2 separate regions of the Homo sapiens genome follow, and region 1 is linked to region 2. The links come from fine-mapping of genetic effects on gene expression. A gene starts in region 2. The other region holds a variant in brackets. All regions are shown on one strand. Distances are from middle to middle. Region 1 overlaps TECR (trans-2,3-enoyl-CoA reductase). Region 2 holds the start of DNAJB1 (DnaJ heat shock protein family (Hsp40) member B1).

Evidence for each region.
Region 1: its variant is fine-mapped to the expression of DNAJB1 in whole blood (INTERVAL, PIP above 0.99).

The regions. Positions count from the first base shown.
Region 1 is chr19:14,536,991-14,539,890 of GRCh38, forward strand. All of the region lies in intron 1 of TECR (trans-2,3-enoyl-CoA reductase), which reads left to right. It also overlaps a transcript of DNAJB1 not described here. Among named protein-coding and RNA genes, the nearest start is that of TECR, 8.8 kb to the left of the region's middle. The variant CT/C (reference allele first, on the strand shown) is at 1,546.
Region 2 is chr19:14,517,001-14,519,900 of GRCh38, forward strand. It overlaps DNAJB1 (DnaJ heat shock protein family (Hsp40) member B1), which reads right to left and starts at 1,397. Exons shown (of 3, transcript NM_006145.3): 1 at 1,139-1,397; 2 at 1-46. The coding sequence starts at 1,349. RefSeq lists silencers at 679-1,248, 1,459-1,778 and an enhancer at 2,691-2,900.

The DNA of each region.
Region 1 (2,900 bases), 20 kb after region 2:
GGAGGAGGTGGGGCTTGAGGACGGGGAGGGGTGTCGAGGAGGGGGAGGCGGGTCCCAAGGAGTAGGAGGCAGAGTTTAGCAGGAAAAGGCATGTCCTGAGGAGGAGGAGGGGGCAGGGCTGAGGTGGAGGAGGTGGTTCCTGAGGATGAGGAGGTAGGGCTGAGAAAGAAGAGGCGGGGCCGGGGGGGAAGGGGAGGCCGAGGGGGAGGAGGTGGGGCTCAGGAGGAGGAGGCGGGGCAAGAAGGAAGCGGCGGGCCTGGATGGGGGAGGCGGGACCAGGGAGGGGGAGGCGGGACCAGGGAGGGGGAGGCGGGACCGAGTAACAAGAAGGTGGGACGGGATGAGTGGTGGGCTTTGGTGTGTGCCAGGTGGAGTAGCTGTTTCAGCCGCACCCAGGTGGATTTAGAGGCTCCACCAGCTGGGCCCAGCAAAGCCTTCTGGACTAACTGGTTCCTGAGAACAGAGGAGGGTTGACAGCCTTGAGTGAGGGCGGTGCTTGGAAAGGCCTTGCGACTCTGATAAGGTGGTTGGGTTTGGTCGGGAATCCTGCACTTTCATTGACAAGCCTGGCTGCGTGAGAAAGGCCAGAGACCTTGAGCTAGTTGGTCAAGTTCAGGCTGGGTCTTAACACCTTCTTGCTGATACTGATAGTGGCAGCTGAGAATGTTTTAATACCTGGGACATTTCCTGCGGCAGCCAGAATATAGTAATCTTCCTAGTAAATTACGGTGAATATAGTGCTTAATTATCAGTGTTTTTTTTTTTTTTTTTTTGAGACGAAGTCTCGCTCTTGTCCCCTAGGCTGGGGTGCAATGGCGTGATCTCGGCTCGCTGCACCTCCGCCTCCCGGGTTCAGGCGATTCTCCTGCCTTAGTCTCCCGAGTAGCTGGGATTACAGGTGCCCACCACCACACTTGGCTAGTTTTTGTATTTTTAGTAGAGATGGGGTTTCACCATGTTGGCCAGGCTGGTCTGAAACTCTTGACCTCAGGTGATCCGCCCAACTTGGCCTCCCAAAGTGTTGGGATTACAGGCGTGAGCCACTGCGCCGGCAGTGTGAGTGCTTCTTATCTAGTAACATATCTAAATCGTGTACTAAACATAAGACGTAGATGCTGTTCTTATCTCTACTTGACTGATGGAGAAACTGAGGCACAGAAAGTGAAGCGACTTGTCCACAGCTAGTGGCTAGCAGAGCTGGGATTCTTCTAGAACCAGAGTGGGCTTTGCTGTGGGTCGTGCACTGGGGAAAGAATCAAGTGTGTGGTGGTGGTGAAGGACTTGGAGGCCACCCACTCTGTCCTTGGGACAGTGACTTAACCTAAGCTTCAGTTTTGTCACCCTGTGAGGCCAGGATAACGACACCTGGGGGCCTGTGGGGGAGTGTGAAGTGCTCAGCATGCTTCGCGGCCCACAGGCAGGGTAAAAATCCTTAAGCGGAGAGGGACCCACGTTAGGCAGGTAAGGACAGATCAGCATCCCCAGGGCTGCCTGAGATGCTTTTGGCACCTGACCTCTTTGGAAGGCCTCAAAACTCTTTTTTTT[CT/C]TTTTTTTTTTTTTTGAGATAGAGTCTTCCTCTGTCACCAGGCTGGAGTGCAGTGGCGTAATCTTGGCTCACTGCAACCTCTGCCTCCTGGGTTCAAGTGATTGTCCTGCCTCAGCCTCCCGAGTAGCTGGGATTACAGGCACGTGCCACCATGCCTGGCTAATTTTTGTATTTTTAGTAGAGACGGGGTTTCAGCATCTTGGCCAGGCTGGTCTTGAACTCCTGACCTCGTGATCCACCCGCCTCAGCCTCCCAAAGTGCTGGGATTATAGGCATGAGCCACCACGCCTGGCTGAGAAAAGCTTCAAAACTTAATGAAGAAGGTCCACCAGGCGCCAGGAGACAGACTGATGTCAAATCATATGCCCAGAAGGTGGAGGAAGAAGCCCAGATGCCAGTGCCTCAGTTTTGATATAATGTCACACACCATGCAAGTCACATTTTTTTTTTTTTTTGAGACAGAGTCTCGCTCCGTCACCCAGGCTGGAGTTCAGTGGCTCCATCTCGGCTCACTGCAATCTCCGCCTCCCGGGTTCATGCGATTCTCCTGCCTCAGCCTCCTGAGTAGCTGGGACTACAGGCGCCCACCACCACGCCCGGCTAATTTTTTTTTTTTTTTTTTTTTTTTTTTGTATTTTTAGTAGAGACGAAGTTTTACCGTGTTAGCCAGGATGGTCTCGATCTCCTGACTTCGTGATCCACCTGCCTCGGCCTCCCAAAGTACTGGGATTACAGGCGTGAGCCACCACACCTGGCTGCAAGTCACATTTTGAGATGATCAGCTCTTTCCTTCTTCATGGGAAGACCCTTGGGGAAGTCACACCACACTCAGAGCCCACTTTTTAACCTGTTGTGACAAAGAATCATCCCAGGAAGTGGAGGCTAGAAGACAGTCTGGCCACCAGGTGCCTGTCACAGCTGCCTCACCTAGGAGCACACTGCTTCTGTTCCTGCTCCCTCCTAGCTGACTGTTCCCCACCGAGCCACAGGCAGAAGGCCTTTTTGCCTGTAAGTGGGAGGATCTTAGTGTGCCATGGCTCAGAACCTTCCCTCAGAGGCTTGTCATCTGTCCCCTGCTTTCCTCAGTTGTTACTATGCTACTGTCTTTCACAGATACCCAAAACCACGTTCCTGCCCTAAGCACATGCTATTCCCTCGGCCCTGGATGCCCTTCCCTCTGCTTTCCTCATGCCTGGCCCTTCGTGTTACCGAGCGCTCAGCTTCCATGTCCCCCAGAGAGACCTTCCTTGGCCATCCAATCTAAAGTCCAACCCCTTGCCTGTCACCCTGGCACCCCACTCATCTCCTTCGCAGCCCATCTGGGCTTGGGTTGTGTTTTCTTTCTTTTTTTTTT
Region 2 (2,900 bases):
TTGGCACCACCGCCGCTACCGCCACTGGGGCCACTCCCCTTTAGGCCTGAAAAGCAGATTTAGAAGCAGTCAGATGGCTGAACAGCAGACTCTCTCTCGAGCTTCCCTTACAGGGGGAAACAGCTTGGAAGCCATGGGGGAGGAACTTTTTTGTCTGTCAGGGGAGAGCAAGGAAGAACCCCAAGTTTCTACCTCTCACTGCCAACAGCAGAGACGCCCCCCTACCAACAGTATTTCCGCGTAGCCTGACAGTGGAAAAGGACTCATGCGGTTAGGTGTTCACCTCCAGGTGCCACCTAGGCCCTGCCACTCCTGGACTGACCCATCCTCCTGGCAACATCACCAAGAGATGGCTAAAGACACATGGTCCAGGGTCGGCTTTCGGTAAGTGTTTACTCTCAACGTTTTAGGGCTAATGGTGCGTAGGAAGAGAAGAAAAAAAAAAACAAAAATAAATAGGGAGTTTTTAAATCCTCACACATTAGCATTCACTGCCACCATCCTTGCACAAAAAGTCAGCTCCAGATCAAGCCCAGAAGCCAGCCTGAATCATCAACGGGCACAGGAACAAAAAGCCCTGCTCTCCTTACCCTCCGAGGCGGCCCCGCTCTCCGGACCTGGGCGGCCGCTGCCTCCTGCGTGCCCTGCCGGGGCCAGGTCATCACTTCCCGGGAATTATCCCAACCCAGCCCCCAAGCCCACGAACGGGGTCGGCTCCTGCATTCACAACCCCTCGCCCCGCAGCTGAGCCGGAGGCGCCGCCCCGCGGACCCCGGCGGCCGAGCCCAGGTGAGCCCGGGTCCGCAGCGGGCTCCGCCGCGCCGTCCCCGTCGTCACCCCCGGCTCCCCCACCCCCATGCACCGCACCCCGGGGCTGCTCGGGGCCGCGGGAGGAGGCGCCCGGGGAGGGGCAGCCCCAGACATGCTAGAAGCTTCTGGCCGAGCGGCTGGGCCAAGGCTCCTCCTCCCACCGCGCGGCCGCCAATCCGAGGGCGGAGGCCCGCGAGGCCGGAGGGCGGGGCAGCTCGGCCCCACGGCCCGGGGCGTCCTTCCCGGGGGGCCGCCGAGAGGGGCCAGCGTGCCTCAGTTTCCCTGTCTGTCAAAAGGCGGGGCCGCGCCCCTGGCCGCGAGCACACACCTTCCTCCCCGTAGCGGTCGAAGATCTCGCGCTTGCGCGGGTCGCTGAGCACGTCGTAGGCCTCAGCGATCTCCTTGAACTTCTCCTCGGCGCCGGGCTCCTTGTTCTTGTCCGGGTGGTAGCGCAGCGCCTGGCGGCGGTAGGCCCGCTTGATCTCCTCGTCCGACGCGCCGCGGGCCAGGCCCAACGTCTGGTAGTAGTCTTTACCCATGACCCCCTCCTGCGGCCCGCCGACCCGCTGTCGCCGTCCCCCGGCTCCGCCGCCGACCAGTCCCGGACTCTATATACCCGTCCGGCGGAAGCTTCCAGAGCCCGCCAGCCCCCTCCAGAACCTTCCGCCCCGCCCGCCCCCGCGGCGCCGGCCAATCGCCGCCGCCCTTTCAGCGACACGCGACATCCGGGGCGGGGCCTCGCCGTCAACGGCCGCCCGCGCGGGGCCACGCCCCCTCCCGCTCCGCCCTCGGCAACACCTCCCCGCGGCGCGCGCGCACAGGTCGGAGGAGGCCCCGCCCACCTTTCGGGACGAGCCAATCGCGACCTTCTTTCCCTCTCTACGCGGCCCCAGCTACCCTGCGTCCCGCCCTCCGCCTGGGTCAGTAGGTCGGGACCCACAGCGAACTTGCTGTTCCAGGAAGGGGTGGGGCCTGGGACTACCCAGTCCTTTCCCCGGGAGGCGATGAACCTGCTCGCCCTTGTCTCGTGGGGCCTGCGGTGGGCTCCCGCCCGGTGACGCCGGACGAACTACCTAACCTGTGTCTGCCTAACCCAGGGGCCCCCTTCTATCTACAACATGGCAATAAGAGAACCTATCAGGCCGGGCGCGGAGCCTCATGCCTGTAATCCCATCACTTCCTGAGGCCAAGACAGGAGGATCTCTTGAGCCTAGGAGTTGGAGACCAGCCTAGGCAACATAAGGAGACTCCGTTTCTATTTAAGATTAACAAACAGGCCGGGCGCGGTGGCTCACGCCTGTAATCCCAGCATTTTGGGAGGCCGAGGCGGGCGGATCACTTGAGGTCAGGAGTTCGAGACCAGCCTGGCCAACATGGTGAAACCCCATCTCTGCTAAAAATATAAAAATTACCCGGGCGTTGGTGGCACGAACCTGTAATCCCAGCTACTCAGGAGATTGAGGCCTGAGAATAGCTTGAATCGGGGAGGCGGAGGTTGCAGTGAGCCGAGATCCGGCCGTTGCACTCCAGCCTCGGCAACAGAGCGAGACTCCGTCTCATAAATAAATAAAATAAGTAAAATAAAGTAAAATGAACAAAAAACCCACCAGCGCTATTCTCCCAACCGTGGGGAGAAGGATTTTGGGACGGAAGACTGCCTCTGTTCTCACCTCCTAAAGCAAGGTGAGGATCTGGACGGAAGCGCATCTCCCAAGGTCCTCCCAGTCCCGCCTTCTTCCCTTTACTGCCCTCTCAAGATCACTTGCCGCTAAATTTGAAATTTATCTTGTCTCTTGGCTTTCAATGTGTCTTCCCTCCCAGTCTGACATCGCCACCTGGGCAGGGGCCAGGTCCTGTCTGCACTGGGTCCCCAGTGCCTGGAACGCAGTGAGAACCTCATAAATATTCCCCGTTCTTACACACGTGCTTCTTTTTCTTCCCCAACTACCTTTATAATTTGGGGGGACATAGGTGTGTCACACACCTTTCAAGGCCTCTGTTTCCTCAATTGTAGGCAACACGATCGCGTTTGGCTCTGAAAGTCTGGGGTGCCTCTGTCAAGGACAGAGCTGATGGGAAAAGGAGGCTCA